2 linked regions of the Homo sapiens genome follow. The protein of the gene in region 1 interacts with the protein of each later gene in a pairwise test. Each region holds a gene or a part of one and is shown on either strand. Other genes may lie near its edges. The genes, in order: SPATA12 and CIDEC.

What was found.
Region 2: the proteins of SPATA12 (region 1) and CIDEC interact in binary tests that used the Homo sapiens proteins (3 or more experiments, as listed by UniProt).

Annotation. Positions count from the first base shown.
Region 1 is NC_000003.12:57,061,671-57,072,984, forward strand, and holds part of SPATA12 (spermatogenesis-associated protein 12), read left to right. Parts: intron 1-11,314.
Region 2 is NC_000003.12:9,873,270-9,885,376, reverse strand, and holds the start of CIDEC (lipid transferase CIDEC), read left to right. Parts: upstream 1-5,123; 5' UTR 5,124-5,153; intron 5,154-6,320; exon of another isoform or gene 6,321-6,322; 5' UTR 6,323-6,435; intron 6,436-6,564; exon of another isoform or gene 6,565-6,584; coding exon of another isoform or gene 6,585-6,598; exon of another isoform or gene 6,599-6,656; intron 6,657-6,865; coding exon of another isoform or gene 6,866-6,890; coding exon 6,891-6,943; intron 6,944-8,157; coding exon 8,158-8,311; intron 8,312-12,107. UniProt on the Homo sapiens protein: Lipid transferase specifically expressed in white adipose tissue, which promotes unilocular lipid droplet formation by mediating lipid droplet fusion. Lipid droplet fusion promotes their enlargement, restricting lipolysis and favoring lipid storage.

The sequences.
Region 1 (11,314 bases):
ACTATATGATACCTCTATGTTTAACTCCTGTTACACTTTTAGGATTCTGGCAGCCACCACAGCTAACTCTCAGTGAGCAGTCTCTCATCCTGTGTTACTCACCACTCTAAGAATTTTTATTAACTCATTTAGTCCTGAGGTGTGGTATAATTATTTTCATCCCCATTTTACAGACAAAGAACCTGAGGTGAGAGAGGTCCTCCTTCTCAGATGGCAGCATCAGTATCTGAGCCCGCATAGGTTCAGATTTAAATTGTTTCTCCGGTTGTGACAAAAACAAGGTGCTGCTCTGCCTACAAGCATTTTCTGCCCTGAATAATGCCTTTGGGAGGGTTTCCACATCTTTCCTTGCTCTGGACTAAGGATCAAGTAAAAAAAGAGAGTGGGGCAGGGATGCTCCACTGGATTGGATCTGTCTAGACTCACTGCTAGCAGTGAGAAATCCAACTCCATCTAGATGGGTGAGAAGGGGGATTTGTAGGAAGATCCCTGGAGCAGCTCAGTCATGTGACTAGATCCAAAGGCAATGTGCCCAACCCTCCCCTCGCAGCTCCACACTCTGGGCCTGTCCTCACTGCTCTAGCGCTGGGTGAGTGCCTTCAAGCACCTTCTCTGCCACTTCTGAGTGGGTTAGGATGACCCTGAGGAAGCCCACAGCCTGGCAAGGGTGGCTTGTGTCTAGCTCCAGACCGGCTACCACAGCCGAGGGGAGGGGAACCATGATAGGCCCAGCCAGGACCACAGCCCCCACTCGGGCTCAGGCTAGGCTCAGGAGCACGGCGGCGGGGGCGGGGGGTGCTCAGGAGCATGGGGAAGCCTTTCAGAGAAGAGGGAAGGAAGCAGGGCAAGTGCCCAGCACAGATGCTGCATAATCTACAATAGCAAAAGATTGGAAGCTGCCCAGTAGTACTGAACAAAACAAGGTTAAATAAAGCTGCTCTAGCCACTCAGCAAAACACTATGTAGCTGTTTAACAAGCAGGAATATCTGGTGGGAATGACAGGACTCGCTGTTTCTCTGTCTACACACATGCACACACACACACACACAACAAACATGCACACACACATACATACACATATGTAATAATTCACAGGTAAGAAAAATATAGGCAAGAATTATATCATAATAGAAGAATCAAATGGCTTTTAATCTGTTTACCAAACTTTTCTTTACGGGTTCAACAAATTATTGTCTGTACCAGGCAAGGCACTGGGGACATGACAGGGAACACAATAGAAGAAAAATCCCTGCCCTCATGGAATTTACATTCTAGTGGGGGAGGCAGATGACAAGATAAATAAGCAAAATACACCTTATATTGGATAACGATAGTGTAAGGAGAAAAAGCAATGAAGGCAAAGGGGAAGTTGGGATGCAGTGGTAACGGTTTAGACACGATGACCAGGGAAGGCTGAAGGAAATGAGGGACCAAGCTCTGCAGATATTGGGAGAGGTGCATTTTGGGCAGCGGGAATAGCAGGTGCAAAGGCCCTGAGGTGCCCACGCAGGGAACAGCATGGAGGTGATGTGGCTAGAGTGCGGTTATGAGGGGGAAGGGCAAACTAAGAGAGGAGTCAGAGAGGAAATGCAGCCAGATCACATGGGGCCTTGCAGCCAGCCACCCTAAAGGCTTTGGCTTTGTTGCAGTGAAATGAGAGCTATTTGAGGGCTTTGAGCAGAGAAGTAGCCAACCCTTCAGAAGGTTCCCTCTGACTCTGAGTTGAGAACAAGCTGAAAGGAGGTAAAGGCAGAGGCTTGGAGGCCGCAGTCATTCAGGTGAGAGGGGAGAATGACCTGGAGGGTGGTAGGAGCGGGAGGGGAGCAGTGGCCACTCTACAAGTAGAGTCTTTTGACAAGTGAAGAGAAGAGAGATACAAAAGTCAAAGATGACGCCCCAGGCTTTGGGCCTGAGCAACCAGGAGGTTGGGGTGCTCCTTAACAGAGATGTGGGAAGAGGATCAGGAGAGTCGGGCATCCTAGAAGCCAGGTGAGACAAGGCTTCGAGGAAGAGAAAGTGACCAACTCCATCACACGCTGCTGGTAGTCAGGAAGGATGGCAACAGAGAACAGGCCATTGGGATGAGCAACCAGGCACTCACTGTAGACCTTGGTAAGAGATATCTGGGGAGAGGGGAGTGGAAGCCAAGCCTGCCTGAAATGAGGGGCTCAAAAGAGAATGGGATAGCAGCATCATTCACAATAGACAAAAGGTGGAAGCAACTCAGTGTCCATGACAGATGAATGGTAGAACAAAATGTGGCAAATGCATAGAATTGAATAATATTCTGCCTTAAAAAGGAGGGAAATTCCATGCCAGCTGTGCTGGCTCACGCCTGTAATCCCAGCACTTTGGGAGGCCCAGGGAGGGGGACTGCCTGAGCTCAGGGGCTCGAGACCAGCCTGGGCAACATGGCAAAACCCTGTCTCTACCAAAAATACAAAAAAATTAATTGGGCATAGTGGTGCATGCCTGTAGTCCCAGCTAACCCGGAAGCTGAGGTCAGAGGATTGCTTGAGCCTGGGGGGTAGAGGTTGCAGTGAGCTGAGATTGTGCCACTGCAGCAATCAGTGACAGAGTGAGGCCCCGTCTCAAAAAACAAAACAGAAAACCAAAAACCAAGAAGGAAATTCTTTCTTTTTTTTTTCTTTCTTTTTTTTTCTTTTTTTGGAGACAGGGTTTCCCTCTGTTATCCAGGCTGGGATGCAGCGGCAAGATCACGGCTCACTGCAGCCTCAACTTCCCTGACTCAAGTGATCCTCCCATCTCAGCCCCCAAGTAGCTGAGATTACAGGTGCATGCCACCACGCCCAGCAAATTGCTGTATTTTTTGTAGACAGGGTATCACCATGTTGCCAAGGCTGGTTTTGAACCCCTGGGCTCAACATCCGCCTCCTCGGTGCTGGGATTACAGGCATGAGCCACCATACCCAGCCCAAAGGAAGGAAATTCTGACACATGTTACAACATGGGTGAACCTTGAGCACATTATGCTGAGTGAAATAAGCCAGTCACAAAAGGACAAATATGGCATGATTCCACTTATATGAGGTATCTAGAACAGTCAAATTCAGAGACAGAAAGTAGAATGCTGGTCTCCAGGGACTAGGGGCAGGGGGGAATGGGAGTTGCTGTTTAATGGATACAGTGTTTCAGTGTCACAAGATGAAAAGCTCTGCAGATTGGTTGCACAATAATATCAGTATACGCAACACTACTGACCTGAAAACTTAAAAATAGTCAACACAGTAAATTTTACGTTATGTGTGTTTTATCACAATTTTTTGAGACACAATAGAAGGCAAAAAATTAGTAAGTCCAGAAAATTATTTCAAAAAGTTTTGCTCTAAACTGAAGAGAAATGGGTGTATAACTGTAGGGAGAAGTAGGGTGGAGAGAGGGTTCTGCTGTTTTTAAGTTGGGAGAAATAACTGCATGTTTATTTGCTGATGGGACCAATCCAGTAGGCCATGGTCTTAAATGTTGAAATTACTTGCAAAAGGCCGGGCGCAGTGGCTCACGCCTCACGCCTGTAATCCCAGCACTTCGGGAGGCCGAGGCGGGCAGATAACTTGAGGTCAGGAGTTCGACACCAGCCTGGCCAACATGGTGAAACCCTATCTCTACGAAAAATACAAAATTAGCCGGGTGTGATGGTGTGCACCTGTAGTCCCAGCTACTAAGGAGGATGAGGCAGGAGAATCACTTGAGCCCAGGAGGCAGAGGTTGCAGTAAGCTGAGATTATGTCACTGCACTCCAGCCTGGGCAACAGAGCAGGACTCCATCACAAAACAAAAAAAAAAGAAATTACTTGCAAAAGAAAAACTGTATTTTAGGATGATAAATATTCTGGAACTAGTGGTGATATCTGCACTACCGTATGCATGTGCTAAAAAACAGACTGGGTACTTGAAAAGGGTCAATTTTGTGGTATGTTAATTATACCTCAATAAAAATAAAAGCTATAATAAATGTTTAATGTCTTCCAAATACCATGTTCTCATACAGGCTGAGTTCCCACCCAGGCAGCCCCAGATACCTACAGTTTCTGTGGCCAGTGACCCACCACAGCTAGGTGGTAGCCTGCGGAACAGGAGAGGCAAGGTCATCCTCATTACGGCTGAGTCACAAATGCTGCATTAGCACACACAGCCCCCTACAGCTAGATCTACGGAGCATGCACCAATTTGTTGCAGATAAATGGCACCTTTTACTTAGGCCCATGAACTCTCAGGTCTTCAGTCTTAAAATGAAATCTAAGAGCTGGGCACAGTAATTCACATCTGTAATCCCAGCTACTCAGGAGGCTGAGGCAGGAGGATCACTTGAGGCCAGGAGGGCAACACAGTGAGACTCTGTCTCCAAAACAAAAAAAAAAAACCCTAAAATGTAAGAAAAAATCCTTTCAATCAGAACAAGAAACTCTGCACCCCCACTGCCAATCTGCCCACCCATCTGGTCCACCTGTAATTGCAAGAGAACAAGGGAGGGACTTATTTTGCAGTCAATCAAAGGGGAGGGAATTCTTTCCGAAATGTTCTCCTATCTGTACCAACAGCACACTTCCACTTCCAACCATTACACTTTTCCTTTCTTTCTTTTTTTTTTTTTCTGAAACAGAGTCTGACTCTGTCACCCAGGTACAGTGGCATGATCTTGGCTCACCGCAACCTCCGCCTCCCAGGTTCAAGCGATTCACCTGCCTCAGCCTCCCAAGTAGCTGGGATTGCAGGCACCCGCCACCATGCCTGGCTTAATTTTTGTATTTTTAGTAGAGACGGGGTTTCACCATGTTGGCTAGGCTGGTCTTGAACTCCTGACCTCAAGTGATCCATCCGCCTCGGCCTCCCAAAGTGCTGGGACTATTGGCGTGAGCCACCGCGCCCAGGCTTTTGCCTTTTTCCTTTCTTCTGAACAACCTCAAACAGTATTTTACCCACTGTGATGATTAATTTTATGTGTCAACTTGGCTAGACCATGGTAACCAGCTATTTGGTCAAACATTCTAGACATTTCTGTGAAGGTATTTTTTAGATGAGATTAACATTTAAATCAGTGGACTTAGAGTAAAGCAGATTATTCTCCATGATGTGGTGGGCTTTATCCAATCAGCTATAAGCCTTAATAGAAAAAGACCGACCTCCCAGAGCAGGAAGAATTCTACCCAGAGAGCCTTTGGGCTCACTGCAACTCTTCCCTGGGTCTCCGGCCTGCCAGTCTACCTTGCTGATTTTTGACTCACCTGGCCTCCACAATCACATGAGCCAATTCCTAAAAATCAACCTCTCAATAGATAGATGAGCGATTGATTGACACACATCCTGTTGGTTCTGTTTCTCTCCAAACCCTAATACACACCCAAAATAAGTGATTTTCCAATAGAAATTGTCTGTAAGGACCTGTACTTGCATGAAATTTCAAGTCACCAGATAAATGAATAAAAATATATTTTTTAAAAACCACAAAATATGGCAACCCAGAAAGAATAACATTTGTCGGCCAGGCGCGGTGGCTCACGCCTGTAATCCCAGTACTTTGGGAGGCCAAGGCGGGTGGATCACAAGGTCAGGAGATCGAGACTATCCTGGCTAACACGGTGAAACCCTGTCTCTTCTAAAAATACAAAAACAAAATTAGCCGGGCGTGGTGGCGGGCGCCTGTACTCCCAGTTACTCGGGAGGCTGAGGCGGGAGAATGGCGTGAACCCAGGAGGCAGAGCTTATAGTGAGCCAAGATTGCGCCACTGCACTCCAGCCTGGGTGACAGCAAGACTCTGTCTCAAAATAATAATAATAATAATAATAATAATAATAATAATATTTGTCTATATACTGATCAAAGCTATCATAGTAGATATATTTGTTTTCAAATGCAACTTTAGGGTGGGTGCAGTGGCTCACACCTGTAATCCCAGCACACTGGGAGGCTGAGGCCAGAAAATCACATGAGGCCAGGAGTTTGAGACCAGCCTGGGTAATACAGAGAGACCCAGTCTCTACAAAAAATTTAAAAAATTAGCCGGCGTGAGACCAGGCACGGTGGCTCATGCCTGTAATCCCAGCACTTTGAGAGGCCGAGGCGGGCGGATCATGAGGTCAGGAGATCGAGACCATTGGCTAACACGGTGAAACCCCGTCTCTACTAAAAAAAAAAAACAAAACAAAAAAATTAGCCAGGCAAAGTGGCGGGCTCCTGTGGTCCCAGCTACTCAGAAGGCTGAGGTAGGAGAATGGCGTGAACCTGGGAGGCAGAGCTTGCAGTGAGCCAAGATCACACCACTGCACTCCAGCCTGGGCGACAGAGCAAGACTCCGTCTCAAAAAAAACAAAAACAAACAAACAACAACAAAAAATTAGCCGGTGTGGTGGCATGCACCTGTAGTCCCAGTTACTCTGGAGGCCAAGGCAAGAGGATCACTTGAGCCCAGAGGACACTAGACACGCATAGGGTAACTATTGTTTCACCAAATAATTCAGATATGCGCGCACACACACATACACACACACACACACACACACCAGGTTACCAGGTTGCAGTCTATGTTTTACAATAGGTCACAGTCAAAAACATGGGAGAAGCCACCATACTCCACCACACAATAAATGCTTAATAAAATTTGGTAGCATCATCATTCTTATCTCACTCTAAAAGGTAATACGTTCATTTTCTTCATTAGCATTTATTATCACAATAAAATAGAGCTTCTAACACATTTATCAATGCTGCCACTCACTGCAGTGCTGTTTAAGAGTCATTGCACCTCCCTAAATTAACTTGCCAATTCTCTCGCCTCAAAAGGACTCAGGCAATCATTTAAATAATTTCTGACTCACAAAGCTGGCCAAGGATTAGCGAGGCCCTGCCCAGCCCAGAACACATGAAATGTGAGTGATTTGTTAAGAAAACCATTTGAGTTTGCAAGACTGCACAGGGCTTTTATAAAACTAAAGCCATGCTGGAGAGAAACAGTCCTCCCCACCCCCTTGGGAGATGTGTCATAGAGATAGGTCACACAAGGTCAGCCAAGCTGTACCTTCTGAGACTGGGCAGGAACTGAAGCGCCAAACCTCAACTGTGTAACGTGCTTCCTTGTTTTGGGGTTAGGTTATATCATTGTGTTTTTCCCCTAACTTTCCATGTGCACACACACGCACACACCCCCCTCACTAAAGGATGGAAACAAAATCCCTATGAACTGCCGGTTCCAACAACTTAAATAAGGGAATCTGCTAAGGCAAAAGATCTGATTTTTTTTTTTTTTTTTTCTGAGACCGAGTCTCGCTGTATCACCCAAGCTGGAGTGCTATGACGTGATCTTGGCTCACCGTAACCTCTGCCTCCCAGGTTCAAGCAATTCTCTGCCTCAGCCTCTCTCTAGTAACTGGGATTACAGGCACTCACCACCACGTCTGGATAATTTTTGTATTTTTAGCAGAGACGGGGTTTCACCATCTTGGCCAGGCTGGTCTTGAACTCCTGACCTCGTGATCCACTTGCCTCAGCCTCCCAAAGTGCTAGGATTACAGGCGTGAGCCACCACGCCTGGCCTAGATCTGAGATTTTGAAGACCTCAAAACATATATTCTATTGCATGTAAGTTTCTCTTCTCCCAGAAACAAACTAAAAACACAGTCCAAATTCATGCTTTTTTAAATTGCTTTTTTGAAACAACTGCAATAAATAACTCTAATCTCTGTCTCTCAAACACACACACACACACACACACACACACACACACATTGTTTGTTTAAAATGAGAGCTCCTCACCCCAGATGAGTTGAGGTATGAATGGATTTGAAGTTTCAAATGTAGTTTCCCAGGTTGTTCTTTAAGTTTAGAAAACAAGGTTCCAAGTGATACAAATATAGGCACTCCATTTTTTATTATTTCTTTCTTGAAAATAAAATCATGTATTTGTGCTGTGCCAAAGCATTACATCTGGAACACATAAGTACATGTCAGGGTGTAAACTAAGCTTTTTTTTTTCTTTTGAGACAGGGTCTTGCTCTGTCGCCAAGCTGGAGTGCATTAGTGTGAGCACAGCTCATTGCAGCGTCAAACAACGGGGCTCAAGCTATCCTCCCACCTTAGCCTTCCAAGTATGTGGGACTACAGACATGTGCCGTCACACCCAACTAATTTTTAATTGTTTTATAGAAATAGAGTCTCGCTTTGCTGCCCAGGCGGGTCTCAAACTCCTAGCCTGAGGCAATGCTCCCACTTCAACCTCCCAAAGTGCTGGGATTACAGGCATGAGCCACTGCGCCTGGCCTAAACTAAACTTTTAATATGTGATATTACTCCCTTTTTATTTTTATTCCATTCTTCAAACTATGATGTGAGTGAATTGGGGGTGAGGGGCTAAGATTGTTTTAGCAGCAGAACTCTTTCCTCAAATGAAATTGTACCCCTTTGCCCAACAGATAAAACAAGATAAAATGGAGCCTGGCTTCAATTCTCCTATCACCACCTGGTGCCTCCAGGGCTGTGGGGTCTCCCAGTTCCCACCACACTTCTCCAGGCATGAAGCAAGGGGTTATGGGAGTATCTTAGAGATCTCCATCCCATCCTTAGCATGAAGGAAAGCCAGATCTGTCATATGTGTGTCCAGGTGCCAGATGCACTCCCATTTCACAAATTCAGGAGTTAAATGTCTTACCCAAGCCTTAAATTAGACACTACAGTATACTGTGTTACTTTCTTCAAAAAGGAAAGAGACATTTACATCGCTGGAGTTTTGTCTGTGCAGTTTGATGGATGGGTCTCAGAGTGCCTACTCAGCAGACTCAATGACTAGGGAAGCTGAGTGAGCAGTGCCACCAGCAAAAAGGAATTTAGGTTCCACAGTTAATATTGTTAAGATGGCAAAACTCCCCAAGTGATCTACAGAGTCAATGTAACCCCTGTCAAAATCTCAGGTCTCTTTTTGCAGAAACTAACAAGCTGATCCTAAAATTCATAGGGAGATCCAGAACAGCCAAAATAATCTAGAAAAAGAAGGTCAGGCTGGGCACAGTGGCTAACACCTATAATCCCAGCACTTTGGCAGGCCAAGGTGGGAGGACTACTTGAGCCCAGGAGTTTGAGACCAGCCTGGGTAACACAGCCAGACCCAGTCTCTACCAAAAATAAATAAATAAAAATTAAAAATTAGCTGGGTATGGTTGCACACATCTGTAGTCCCAGCTACTTGGGAGGCTGAGGTGGGAGGATTGCTTGAGCCCAGGAGGTCGAGGCTACAGTGAGCAGTGATCATGCCACTGCACTTCAGCCTGGGTGACAGAGCAAGACTCTGTCACAAAAAAAAAAAAAAAAGAAAGAAAGAAAGAAAAAAGAAAAAGAAGGACAAAGTTGGAGGATTCATACTTCCTGATTTCAAAACTTACTACAAAGCTATAGTAGTCAAGACAGTATAGACAGCAATACTGGCATAAGGATAGACATATAGATGAATGGACTAGAATTGAGAATGCAGAAATAAATGCTTACATTTATAGTAAATTGATTTTTGACAAGAGTGTCAAAACAATTTAATGGGGAAGAAGAGTCTTTTCAACACATGGTTCTGGGACAACAGGATTTCCATATGCAAAAAATGAAGCTAGACCCCTACCTCACACCACATACAAACATCAAATCAAAACAGATCAAAGTTCTAAATCTAAGAGCTAAAACTATAAAACTCTTATAAGAATATATAGGCATATGGCTGGGCGTGGTGGCTCATGCCTGTAATCCCAGCACTTTGGGAGGCTAAGGTGGGCAGATCATGAGGTCAGGAGTTCCAGACCAGCCTGGCCAACATGGTGAAACCCCGTCTCTACTAAAAATACAAAAATCAGCTGGGTGTGATGATGCACACCTGTAGTCCCAGCTACTTGAGAGGCTGAGGCAGGAGAATCATTTGAAACCGGAAGGTGGAGGTTGTAGTGAGCCGAGATCATGCCACTATACTCCAGCCTGGGTGAAAGAGCAAAACTCCATCTCAAAAAAAAAAAAAAAAATATGCCTTAGGCATAAGTTTTCATGACCTTGCATCAGGCAAAGGTTTCTTACGTATGACACCAAAAGCACAGGAAACCCAAGAAAAATAGATAAATTGAACTTCACCAAAATTAAAACCTGGCACTTCAAAGAACACCATCAAGAAAGTGAAAAAATAACCCACAGAATGGGCAAAAAATACTTTAAAATCATAGCTGATAAGGAACTGAACTCAGAATATATAAAGAACACTTACAACTCAATAATAAAGAGACATATAATCCAATTTAAAAATAGATAAAAGACCAAATATACATTTCTCCAAAGAAGATACACAAATGGCCAATAAGCACATGAAAGAAGGCACAACATCATTAGCCATCTGGGAAATGCAAATCAAAGTCACAATGAGATGCCACTTCATACCCACTTAGGATGGCAATAATCACAAGATGGATAATAACAAGAGTTGATGAAGATGTGGAGAAACTGGAACCCTCGTGCACTGCTGGTGGGATTTTAAAACAGTGCAGCCACTTTGGAAACAGTTTGGCAGTTCCTCAAAATGTTAAGAGTTACCATATACCTAGCAATTCCACTGCTAGATATATATTCAAGAGAAATAAAACCATATGTCCACAGAAGTTTGTATATTCTTCCCTGAGGAATGGAAGAGCCAGGGCAGGTAAAAGAGAGGAGAAATGTATACGGTCAAAGAAAACACTCTTGGACATAACTAAATGGGAAAACATTAGTTGTTAGCACTGTCCAGGCCAAATAAAGAATTAAAAAAAAAAAAATAGGCCAGGTGCGGTGGCTCATGTCCGTAATCCCAGCACTTCAGGAGGCCGAGGTGGGAGGATTGCTTGAGCTCAGGGGTTCAAGACCAGCCTGGGCAACATGGCAAAACCCTGTCTCTACTAAAAATACAAAAAATTAGCCAGGCGTGGTGGCACATGCCTGTAGTCCCAGCTACTAGGGAGGCTGAGGCATGAGAATCACGTGAACCCGGGGGGCAGAGGTTGCAGTGAGCTGAGATACCACCCTGGGCAACAGAACGAGACTCTGTCAAAAAAAAAAAAAAAAAGAATAAAAATAAATAAAAACAAGCCAGGCGTGGTGGCTCACTCCTGTAATCCCAGCACTTTGGGAGGCCAAGGCGGGTGGATCACGAGGTCAGGAGTTCAAGACCAGCCTGGCCAAGATGGTGAAACCCCATCTCTACTAAAAAATACAAAAATTAGCAAGGCGCAGTGGCAGGCGCCTGTAATCCCAGCTACTCGGGAGGCTGAAGCAGGAGAATCACTTGAACCTGGGTGGCAGAGGTT
Region 2 (12,107 bases), about 47 Mb from region 1:
TATATGTAGATAGAGTAGGGAGGAAAGAATGAGAGAGAAAGAGAAAGACTAGCTTCTTGTCTGTGATATTAGTTCGAATATACAGTATTTTCCCTGTTTATTTGATGTCTTTTTACTTTTTGTTCATGGTGTTATAAATTTAACATGCAGAATATATTTTTAAATTTAGTGGCTTCTCAATTTTGAGTTGTAGCCACAGTCCTTTTCCAATCCGAGGTGTCCCAGATGATTTTCATGTACTACAGAGTTTGAGAACCATGCTCAGACATTGCCTTTCTCACTGGAATGTGAATTCCCCAAAGGCAGGGACAAGAACTAAGTCATCCATGTCCCCAGCAGCTCATAGTGTCTGGCATAGTGTAAAAATTTCAACGCCTGTAATCCCAGCACTTTGGGAGCTCGAGGCGGGAGGATCGCTTAAGCCCAGGAGTTCGAGACCAGCCTGGGCAACATGGCAAAACTCCATCTCTATTAAAAGAAAAAAAAGAAAAAAAATTTAAAAAGAAAGAAATGCTGGTTGAATAGATAAATTCCAATGGAGCCAAAACCGTCTCCCTCTCCTAATTGCTGTGAAGAATCCCCGGGTTTATCCTTCATCCCTGGACAGTGCTCTCTGGCTGTAGCTCGTGGTTATCTTCGTCTTTCTGTGTCTGGTTTTCTGTCAGGGCCAGACCTCTCCTGAGTCATCTATTGGCCTATCTATCTCAGGACATCAAGTACACAGTAGAGCAATAAATATTTGAGCCATGACTGTTGAAGGGAGGGGCCCCGACTCTTTCTCCAGAACCTCTTCCCTAAAGGGTTTTGCTTGTACCTTTCTCCTGGCTCTTGGTCTGTCCTTAAGTTTAAGTTATATGTGTTCCTGTCTCCTCACTCTCTCTTCATGCTCCCTTCTCAAATCCTTTGCAATGATGTTTCCTTTGTCTTGATCATCCCCCAGGATTTAGTCAGGATTTACCTCAAAGCTCACCTCCTTGGAGGCGTTTCTTGAACGCATAGGCCAATCTAACTCTCCAGCTGTTATTATATCACCTCGTTTTGTTTTCTTCCCAGAACATCATTATCTGAAATTATTTTGTTTATTTGCATATTTATTCATGGTCTGAGTTCCCACCTTCCTCAGGAATGTCAGCTCCTTGAAGTGTGGGACAAGGCTGTCTTGTTTCCTGTTGTATTCTTAGCCCCAGAAGGACTGGCATATAGTAAGTGCTTAATAAATATTTCCTGAATGAATGAATGAATGGTTGCCTGAGAGCCCCTCCAGGGAAGGATTTAGATCTAAATAATAATAATTTCCATTTATTGAGCTCTAAGGATGCACTAGACTCTGTAGCAAGTACATTTCACGATTATCTCTTTTAATCTGCATGGAAACCAGATGCAGTAGAGCTATTTTTATCCCCAGTTGTTGGATCAAACTGAAGCTTAGAAAATTTAGCTCACACAGCTAGCGCTAGACCACTGGTTCTCAAAGTGGGCTCCCTGAGCAGCCATGGCTTCTGAATCATCTGGGAACCTTTAGTAACGCAAATTCCTAGGCACCACCCCAGACTTACTAAGTGAGAAATTCTGGGGTGGGGCCTAGCAATCTGAATTTTAACAAACCCGCCAGCTGATTCTGATGTACCAAAGTGTGAAAAACCCTGTGTTAAAAGAAAGATGAGGTTAAATGTTTTTTTAAAAAACACAGCTTTATTGAGATAGAATTCACATCACCCACTCAAGTGTACAAGTCAATGATTTTTAGTATATTTACAGGGTTGTGCAAACATCACTGAAATAATTTGTAATTAATAGGTAAAAAAAAAAAAAAAAAAAAAGGAAACCTGGCCGGGCGTGGTAGTTCATGCCTGTAATCCCAGCACTTTGGGAGGCAGAGGCGGGCAGATCACTTGAGGTCAGGAGTTCGAGACCAGCCTGGCCAACGTGGTGAAACCCCCGTCTCTACTAAAAAATACAAAAAATAGCCGGGTGTGGTGGCAGGCGCCTGTAATCCCAGCTACTTGGGAGGCTGAGGCAGGAGAATCACTTGAACCCGGGAGGCAGAGGTCACTAAAAATACAAAAATTAGCTAGGTGTGGTGGCACACGCCTGTGGGAGGTAGAGGTTGCTGTAAGCTGAGATCGCGCCATTGCACTCCAGCCTGGGTGGTGACATAGCGAGACTCTGTCTCAAAAAAAAAAAAAAAAAAAAAAAAAAAAAAAAAAAGAAGAAGGCCGGGCGCGGTGGCTCACGCCTGTAATCCCAGCACTTTGGGAGGCTGAGGCAGGCAGATCACGAGGTCAGGAGATCAAGACCATCCTGGCTAACACGGTGAAACCCCGTCTCTACTAAAAATACAAAAAAATTAGCCAGGCGTGGTGGCAGGCACCTGTAGTCCCAGCTACTGGGGAGGCTGAGGCAGGAAAATGGCGTGAACCCGGGAGGCGGAGCTTGCAGTGAGGCGAGATCGTGCCACTGCACTCCAGCCTGAGTGACAGAGCAATGCTCTGTCTCAAAAAAAAAAAAAAGAAAGAAAAGAAAAAGAAAAGGCTGGGTGCGGTGGCTCCTGCCTGTAATCCTAGAACTTTGGGATGCCCAGCCGGGTGGGTCATGAGGTCAGGAGATCGAGACCATCCTGGCTAACACGGTGAAACCCCGTCTCTACTAAAAATACAAAAAATTAGCCGGGCGTGGTGGCGGGCGCCTGTAGTCCCAGCTGCTCTAGAGGCTGAGGCAGGAGAATGGCGGGAACCTGGGGGGCGGAGCTTGCAGTGAGCGGAGATGGTGCCACTGCACTCCAGCCTGGGCGACAGAGCGAGACTCCGTTTCAAAAAGAAAAGAAAAAAAAAAAAAAGAAAAGAAAACCCTGAAAGAAACCCTGTACTAATTAGCAGCCACTCCCCATTCCCCTCCCATCCCCTACTCCCAGCCCGAAGCAACCACTAACCCATTTTGTCTTTTTTTTTTTTTTTTTTTTTTTGGAGGCGGAGTCTCGCTCTGTCGCCCAAGGCTGGAGTGTAGTGGTGCGATCTCGGCTCACTGCAAGCTCCGCCTCCCGGGTTCACGCCATTCTCCTGCCTCAGCCTCCCGAGTAGCTGGGACTACAGGCGCCCGCCACCACGCCCGGCTAATTTTTTGTATTTTTAGTAGAGACCGGGTTTCACCGTGTTAGCCAGGATGGTCTCGATCTTCTGACCTCGTGATCCGCCCACCTCAGCCTCCCAAAGTGCTGAGATTACAGGCGTGAGCCACCGCGCCCGGCCCTACTTTGTCTTTATATAGATTTGCCTATTCTAGACATTTCATATAAGTGGAATCATACAATATGTATATGATTCCTGTGACTGGCTTTGTCTACTTTCTGTACTGTTTGCAAGGTTCCTCCATGTGGTAGTATGGATCCTTTTTGATAAATAATATGCCATGTATGGATAGGCACATTTAAAAAATCGATTTATAAATTGAACATTCATGTGTTTCTACCTTTTGGCTATTACGAATAATCCTATGGATATTCACATACAAGTTTTTGTGTAGACATATTTTTCATTTCTTTTGGATATGTATGTGTATATATATATGTGTGTGTGTATATATATACACATATATATGTAATTTTGTTTGGTTTTGGTTTTGTTTCTTTTCTTTTGTAAAGACAGGGTCTCCCTATGTTACTCAGGCTAAATTTTAATTCCTGGGCTCAAGTGATCCTCCTGCATCAGCCTCCTTCTGAGCAGCTGGGACAACAGGTGTGCTCTGTATGACACACATACACCACACGCACACACACAGAAGTGGAACTGCTGGGTCAGAGATCTTACACTCTTAACCACTCCACATTTCAGCTTGTCTTACTCTCTGCTATGATTTAATATGTACATTATCAAATTGAGAAAAAGACAAAAAAATTAAAAATAATAAAATAAAAATAAAAAATTATCAGTAATACTAATAATCACTTCGATCCATTGAGTGTTTATGTTTGCAAAGCCTTTATTTTTATTTATTTTTATTTTTTTGAGACAGAGTCTCACTCTGTCACCCAGGCTGGAGTGCAGTGGCGTGATCTCGGCTCACTGCAACCTCTGCCTCCCGGGTTCAAATGATTCTCCTGCCTCAGCCTCCTGAGTAGCTGGGATTTCAGGCACCCACCACCACGCACGGCTAATTTTTGTATATTTAGTAGAGATGGGGTTTTCGCCATATTGACCAAGCTGGTCTCGAACTCTTGACCTTGTGATCTGCCCACCTCGGCCTCCCAAAGTTCTGGGATTAGAGGTGTGAGCCACCGTGCCCGGACTTTTTTTTTTTTTTTTTTTTTTTTGAGACAGGGTCTCACTCTGTCACCCAGAATGGAGTGCAGTGGTGTGATCTAAGCTCACCGCAACCTCTGCCTCCCAGGCTCAAGCGATTCTCCTGCCTCAGCCTCCCAGATAGCTGGGATTACAGGCACACACCACCACGCCTGGCTCATTTTTCTATTTTTAGTAGAGACGGGGCTTCACCATGTTGGCCATGCTGGTCTCAAACTCCTGACCTCAAGTGATCCACCTGCCTCGGCCTCCCAAAGTGCTGGGATTACAGGCGTGAGCCACGGCACCCAGGCTACTTTTTTCTTTTTTCTTTTCTTTTCTTTTTTTTTTTTTTTTTCAGAGACAGGGTCTCACTCTATTGCCCAGGCTGTCCTCCAACCCCTGTCCTCAAGCAATCCTCCCGCCTCAGCCTCCCAAAACACTGGGATTATAGGCATGAGCCACTGTGCCCCTTTACTTTTATTGTCACTAATCCTCACCACTACCCTATAAAACAAGAATCATTATCGTCATTACACAGAGAAGAGAAACGGGCTCACAGAAGTCAAGTGATCTGTCTAAGCTCAAGCAAGCTGATATGGGGTGGAGTTGGGACCACAACCCACATCTGCCTGCTTTCTGTGCCCTCTGTGCTTGATCTCATGTCATGGGCCATCCATTTTGCCAAAGCTTTCGAAACATGCCTTCTCCCCTCCTTTTAGGCCTTTTCTGGAAGTCAGGCTGGCTTGCAGCTCTCACCCCAAGCTCTTTTCCCCAGCTGGGGCTGAAGGCTGGGGAGGAGCTTCATGGGGGCTGGAAATAAATGAAGGGAGGGCTGGGCGGGACAGGGCAGTATTTCCAGGAGGCTGTGAGGGGGAGGTAAGGAGTTTGTTATTGTTTTGGGTTTGGGGATTTTTTTTTCTTTGCTCCTGGAGAGCAGGTTAGGTAGCTCTTGGCAGAGTTTTGCTAGGGATACGAAGTGGGTGAGGCTGAGGCAAGCAGAATCCTCCTGCCTCAGCCTCCCACGTAGCTAGGACTAGAGCTTCTGCAGTGCTAAGTGGGAAAGGGGCTTTCTGCCTCTGTGGGGCCTGGTCTGGAAAGTCCCCCAAATTGTTAAAAGCAAAGAGTGATTGTCCCCAGCTGGCAAGGGGACTTTTGTTTTATGTCCACCCCTTGTGCCCCTTGCTCTGCGAAGCCCTACCTGTGCCGGGAGCTTCGAATAGGAAGAGGACCTCAGGGCCAGGCATCCAGGGACTGAGGGGCTACAGCAGAAACAGACCCAGAGGCACCCTTGGCTAGGAAGAGCAGGATGAAGGTGTAATAATTTTGGGAGTGGTCTAAGAAGACTTTCCTTTTAAAGAGTGGAAAGCAATGAAACTGAGGCTTCAAGGCTGCAAAAATTTCGTCCTGGATCAGAGAAGGGCACTACAGGTGGAGGGAACTATCTGTGCAAAGGGTTGGGCCCTTCAAGAGTTGGAGCACAGAGGTTTAGGAGAAAAAGTGGTGACAGATGAGCCCAGGGCTATCTGCTTAGACCTGTGATCTAATATGGGTGCCAACAGCCACATGGCAATGTGGCTATTTAAATTTAAATTAGTTAAAATTCAATAAAGTAAAAAATACAGCTCCTGTGCCAGGTGCAGTGGCTCACGCCTGTAATCCCCGCACTTTGGGAGGCCAAGACAGGGAGATCACCTGAGGTCAGGAGTTCAAGACCAGCCTAGCCAACATGGTGAAACCCAGTCTCTACTAAAAATCCAAACAAAACGAAACTAAACTAAAAATTAGCTGGGCGTGGTGGCAGGTGCCTGTAATCCCAGCTACGGGGGAGGCTGAGGCAGGATAATTGCTTGAACCCAGGAGGCGGAGGTTGTAGTGAGCAAGATCGCCCCATTGCACTCCAGCCTGGGTGACAAGAGCGAAACTCAAAAAAAAAAAAAATTCAGCTCCTGAATCACACTAGTTATGTTTCAAATACTCAATAGCCACATGGGGCTAGTAGCAATGGTATTGGAGAGTATGTACAAGGCATGCCTCTATCATCACAGAATGTTCTTTTGGCCACTGTGAAGCCTCAGGAAGGGGCTCGGATTGCTCAAGGACCCATGGGAGAGAGGAGGCTTTGACTGGGCTGCCTGCCTGTGAGGTCTCTGGACTAGAGGTGAGGGAACGGTCCCCAGAAGTGTGAGGTGGTGTGACTCACCTCCTGCCAGCGTAAAGTGGACTCTGTCCCCATGGACAGGAACAAATCGGGCAAGGCTTCTTCAGCCCTGAGTTGGGTTATCTGCTCAGTGTGACCAGAGCCAGGGGATGAGAAACATGGAGTGAGTGGGACTGGGGCAGGAGCAGCAGCTGCTGAGTGAGGCTGAGCCTGAGCACCCGGTGGGGAGAGGGGTGGGGTCTCCAGCTTGGTCTTGGTTGGCATGCATGGGGCCGGACAGGAGAAGGGCTGGGGGAGGTATGTGTGAGTTGGGATAGAAGAATAGGGAGGAAGGTTGCTGAACAGGGGTTGGGTTGCACCTTGCCTAACAATGAGAGAGATGGGAACCCTCTCATCTCACCCTGATGAATTGTTTCTGCCTCCTTCCCAGGTCCAACGCAGTCCAGCTGACAAGGATGGAATACGCCATGAAGTCCCTTAGCCTTCTCTACCCCAAGTCCCTCTCCAGGTGAGGAAAGTCATGGGCAGAATGGAAAGAGAGCCACCTATGAGCTGTAAGCCAGAACTTCTCAAACTTTAATGGGTATACAGGTCACAGGGGACCTTGTTCAAGTGCAGATTCTGATTCAGGAGGTCTGGAGTGGGACCCGAGATTTTGCACTGCCAAGAAGTCCCTGGGTGATATTAATGCTGCTGCTTACACCACCACCACACCATGCATAAAAAGGAGTAGACACTATGCTTGGTGCTTTTACTCCTGATCTCATGTAAGCCTCACAACAACTTTGGGAAGTGGGGGTTATTATACCAAATTAATAGGTGAGAGAACTGAGGCACATAGTGGGTGCTCTCAATCACCCAGCAAATCCATGAGGGAGCCAAGATTCTAAATTGGGACTGCCTGACTGTAAAATCCAGGTCCTTTCCTTTCCTTTGGTTCTAAATTGAGTGCTTCAGTTAAAAAAATACCTTACATTGACTTCAGGCTTCCCCCACTTCATCCAACTTTACAGGTGAGGAGAGTGAGGCCAAGACAGGTGGTAAATGGGGAATGTGGGGTGGGTCTTTTATTACTTTGCTACTTACTCCTCATGGTCTGAGAACCAGCGTTATCAACATCACTTGGGAACTTGTGAAACATTTGGAATCTCAGGCCTCACCCAGGTCTACTCAGTCAGAATCTGCATTTGAACAGAAGCCCTGGTGACTTATGTGTCCTTCGAAGTTTGAGATGCACTGCTCTAGCAGGCTTTTTTTAATTTTTATTTTATTATTTTTTTTTAAGTCGAGGTCTCCCTCTGTTGCCCAGGCTGGAGTGCAGTGGCACCATCACAGCTCACTGCAACCTCTGCCGCCTCCCAGGGTTCAAGCAATTCTTGTGTCCCGGCCTATGGAGCTGGGATTACAGGCATGTGCCACCACACTGGCTAATCTTTGTATTTTTAGTAGAGATGGTGTTTCACCATGTTAGCCAGGGTGGTCTTGAACTCCTGACTTCAAGTGATCTGCCCACCTCAGCCTTCCAAAGTGTGGGATTACAGACATGAGCCACCGTGCCTGGCTTCTAGCAGGCTTCTGAGTAAGACTAGGGCAGGATTAGCAGGTGATGGGGGGTTGACTGATCATGAGCCCAGTCAGGAGGGGTGGGGAGGTGGCTCCCCTGTGTGGTGGGCAAGGGTTGGGCAAAGTGGGTGGCTCACCCTGATGCTTCAACTGCCCCAGGCATGTGTCAGTGCGTACCTCTGTGGTGACCCAGCAGCTGCTGTCGGAGCCCAGCCCCAAGGCCCCCAGGGCCCGGCCCTGCCGCGTAAGCACGGCGGATCGAAGCGTGAGGAAGGGCATCATGGCTTACAGTCTTGAGGACCTCCTCCTCAAGGTGAGAGCACCTGCGCGTTGCACAGCCCAGCTGTGAGCTGGGATTCAGCAGAGATGGAGGTCAGGGCTTAGAAGGTGGCACAGTTTCCTTTCTGATACCTACCAGCGCCTACAGATGGTAATGCCCACCTGGAGAGCTGTCCAACTAATTAGCAATGACTGATGTCTGTTTGGTAACAGGAGGGGGGCAGTACGTTACCATCCTACACTATCAGTAGGTCAGTGGTATTTTCAGGGCACATTTTTCTTGCTGGAAAATCTCATGCTTCCCACTTCCATTAGTTTTTTTTTTTTTTTTTTTTTTTTTTTGAGACGAAGTCTCACTCTTGTCATCCAGGCTGGAGTGCAATGGCGCGATCTTGGCTCACTGCAACCTCTGCCTCCCAGAATCAAGCGATTCTCCTGCCTCAGCCTCCTGAGTAGCTGGGACTACAGGCACACACCACCACACCCAGCTAATTTTTTGTACTTTAGTAGAGACAGGGTTTCACTGTGTTGCCCAGGCTGGTCTCGAACTCCTGAGCTCAGGCAATCCACCCACCTTGGCCTCCCAAAGTGTTGGGATTACAGGTGTGAGCTACCACACCCAGCCCAAGATGGAGTCTTGCTGTGTCACCCAAGTTGTAGTGCAGTGGCATGATCTCAGCTCACTGAAGTCTCCGCCTCCCAGGTTCAAGTGATTCTCATGCCTCAGCCTCCCAAGAAGCTGGGACTACAGGCATGCACCACCACGCCCAGTTAATTTTTGTATTTTTAGTAAAGATGGGGTTTTGTCATGTTGGCCAGGCTGGTCTCAAACTCCCGACCTCAGGTAATCCACCCACCTCTGCCTCCCAAAGTGCTGGGATTATAGGCGTCAGCCACCATGCCTGTCCTCACTGATCATCTCTATAGGGGTGGGACCCTCTCATCTGCAATCCCAGGTGCCTGGTACAGGTCAAATGTTTGGATTAGGCTTCCAATTATTAGGCTCTATTTAACATACAGAAATCAATCATAGCTAACCTCTTTATTCTAAGTTTCCTCCCCTATTTCTGTGTATTAGTTCTGTTCTTCCGGAGAGCCAATTTCCCCTCCTTTGTAAGGCTTCTGGCTGCGCAGACTACATTTCTTGTGCTTTCAATCAAAAGGACCTGTTCATACTCTAACCTGGACTTGGTGCTGTTTTTTTGCCCTGAGGTCTGGGCACCCCCTGCATCAAAGTGTCCTTGTTATATGTGGCTTCCCCTGGAGGAAGCAATTGCAAACTAACAAAAGTTACACAGTACAAATACAATACAAAACTTTGCCTGAATCATTTGAGAGTAAGTTGCCAACTTGCTGCCTATTACTCTTGGATACTTCAATGTGCATTTTCTACAAACAAGGATATTCTCCTTTCTACAAACAAGGATAGCCATCATACAACTATTACAATCAGGAAACAGTATTACATTACTGTAATTGAATCCTGAAACTCAAGCATTGCCAGCTGTCCCAATAATATCCTTTATAGTGAAAGGATCCAGGTCAGGATCAAGTGTTTATTTAATTGTATGTCTCTTTAGTTTCCTTCAGTATGGAACAGTTTTTCAGTGTTTCCTTGACTTTCATGGCCTTGACCATTTTGAAGATTATGAGCCAGCTATTTTTGTTTACTGTCCCTTGGTTTGGAACTATGCATTTCTTTTTTCTTTTTTTTTTTTTTTTTGAGACAGAGTCTCGCTTTGTCGCCCACGCTGGAGTGCAGTGGTGCTATCTCGGCTCACTGCAAGCTCTGCCTCCCGGCTTCCCACCATTCTCCTGCCTCAGCCTCCTGAGTAGCTGGGACTACGGGCGCCCGCCACCGCGCCCAGCTAATTTTTTTTGTATTTTTGGTAGAGACGGGGTTTCACCGTGTTAGCCAGGATGGCCTCAATCTCCTGACCTCGTGATCTGCCTGCCTCGACCTCCCAAAGTGCTGGGATTACAGGTGTGAGCCACCACACCTGGCCCTATCCATTTCTTTAATTCAGGTTTATATCTTTGGCAGGAATATGATAAAAATAAGTTGCAGGCCAGGCATAGTGGCTCATGCTTGTAATCCTAACACTTTGGGAGGCCGAGGCAGGAGGAGTCCTTGAGCCCAGGAGTTCAAGACCAGCCTGGGCAACATGGTGAGACCCCGTCTATACAAAAATAATACAGGAATTAGCTGGACATGGTGGTGTGCACCTGTAGTCCCAGTTACTCAGGAGGCTGAGGCAGGATGATCACTTGAGCCTAGGAATTTGAGGCTCCAGTGAACTGTGAATGCACCACTGCACTGCAGCCTGTGTGACAGAGCGAGACCCTGTTTAAAAAAAATTTTAAAAAGATTGTCACTGCAAAATTATATGCAATTTTTGTCACCTTACTGTTTTGATTATTTGAATAAAGTGGTAGGTACAGTCAAGCTTCTCTATGTAACATTTTCCCCTCTGTTATTTATTTTCTAGGTCAGTACTTTGTACTAAGTAAACATTGAATTCTGCATCTGTCACTGTATTCACTTATTATTATTATTATTATTATTATTATTATTATTATTTTAGAGAAAGGGTCTCGCTCCATTGCCCCGGCTAGAATGCAGTGATGTGATGATGGCTCACTGCAGCCTCAAACTCCTAGGTTCAAGTGATCCTGCCACCTCAGCCTCCCGACTCGCTAGGACTATAGGTACACGATCTCACACCTAATTTTTAATTTTTTTTTAAATAGAGAGGGGGTCTAGCTATGTTTCCTAGCCTGGTCTCAAACTCCTGGCCTCAAGTGATCCTCCCACCTCGGCCTCCCAAAGTGCTGGGATTACAGGCATGAGCCACTGCATCTGGCCTATTTATTTATTTATTTATTTGTTTCAAAAGGGACACAGGTATTTCTATTTTAATAGCATACATGAATGGCAACAGATTATTTATTGATGCTCAAGTTGTCCCAGACTTCAACATCTTTTTATCATGTCCCCAGCATTCTTTGCATGCTTTCTTTCTGGTGCAACAAGGTATTACAGGCTCATCTTGTATTTTCCCTGCCCTAATTCTTGGCCATTTTTTTCTAAGGTCTGTTTCATTTTAGTGGAGAATGGTATTCAGAAACCGAGACCAGGGAGCTAGATATGTTCATTGCTATTGGTGTGTTGCTGATCCCAGGCCCTTACTGAAAGAGTTTTAAGTAGCAAGATATGTTCCTTAGTGAATCCAAGCAAGAAAAGTGACGTGATAATGCCATCATTCCAAGATAACTAATGATGTGGTTGTAAATGTCCTGAGGAGCCTATTCTTATTATGGACCATGTAATCTGCCAGGTGATTTGCAGCATTTCTTCTGATGAGAGCCTTAAGGTAGTTACCACTATTTCCATTCTCCAGAGGCAGAGGCCAAGTGCATTCACTGGGATTGAAACCCAGGCAGTTAACCTAAGTGTCATGACACTTTTTTTTTTTGAGACGGTGAGACGGAGTCTCACTCTGTCGCCCAGGCTGGAGTGCAGTGGCGTGATCTCAGCTCACTGCAAGCTCCACCTCCCAGGTTCACGCCATTCTCCTGCCTCAGCCTCTGGAGTAGCTGGGACTACAGGTACCTGCCACCACGCCTGGCTAATTTTTGTATTTTTAGTAGAGACAGGGTTTCACCGTGTTAGCCAGGATGGTCTCGATCTCCTGACCTCGTGATCCACCTGCCTTGGCCTTGGCCTCCCAAAGTGCTGGGATTACAGGCGTGAGCCACTGCACCCGGCCGTCATGACATTTTTGCATTTAATCACTATAACAACTTATAAACTGTACTTGCCTCAACTT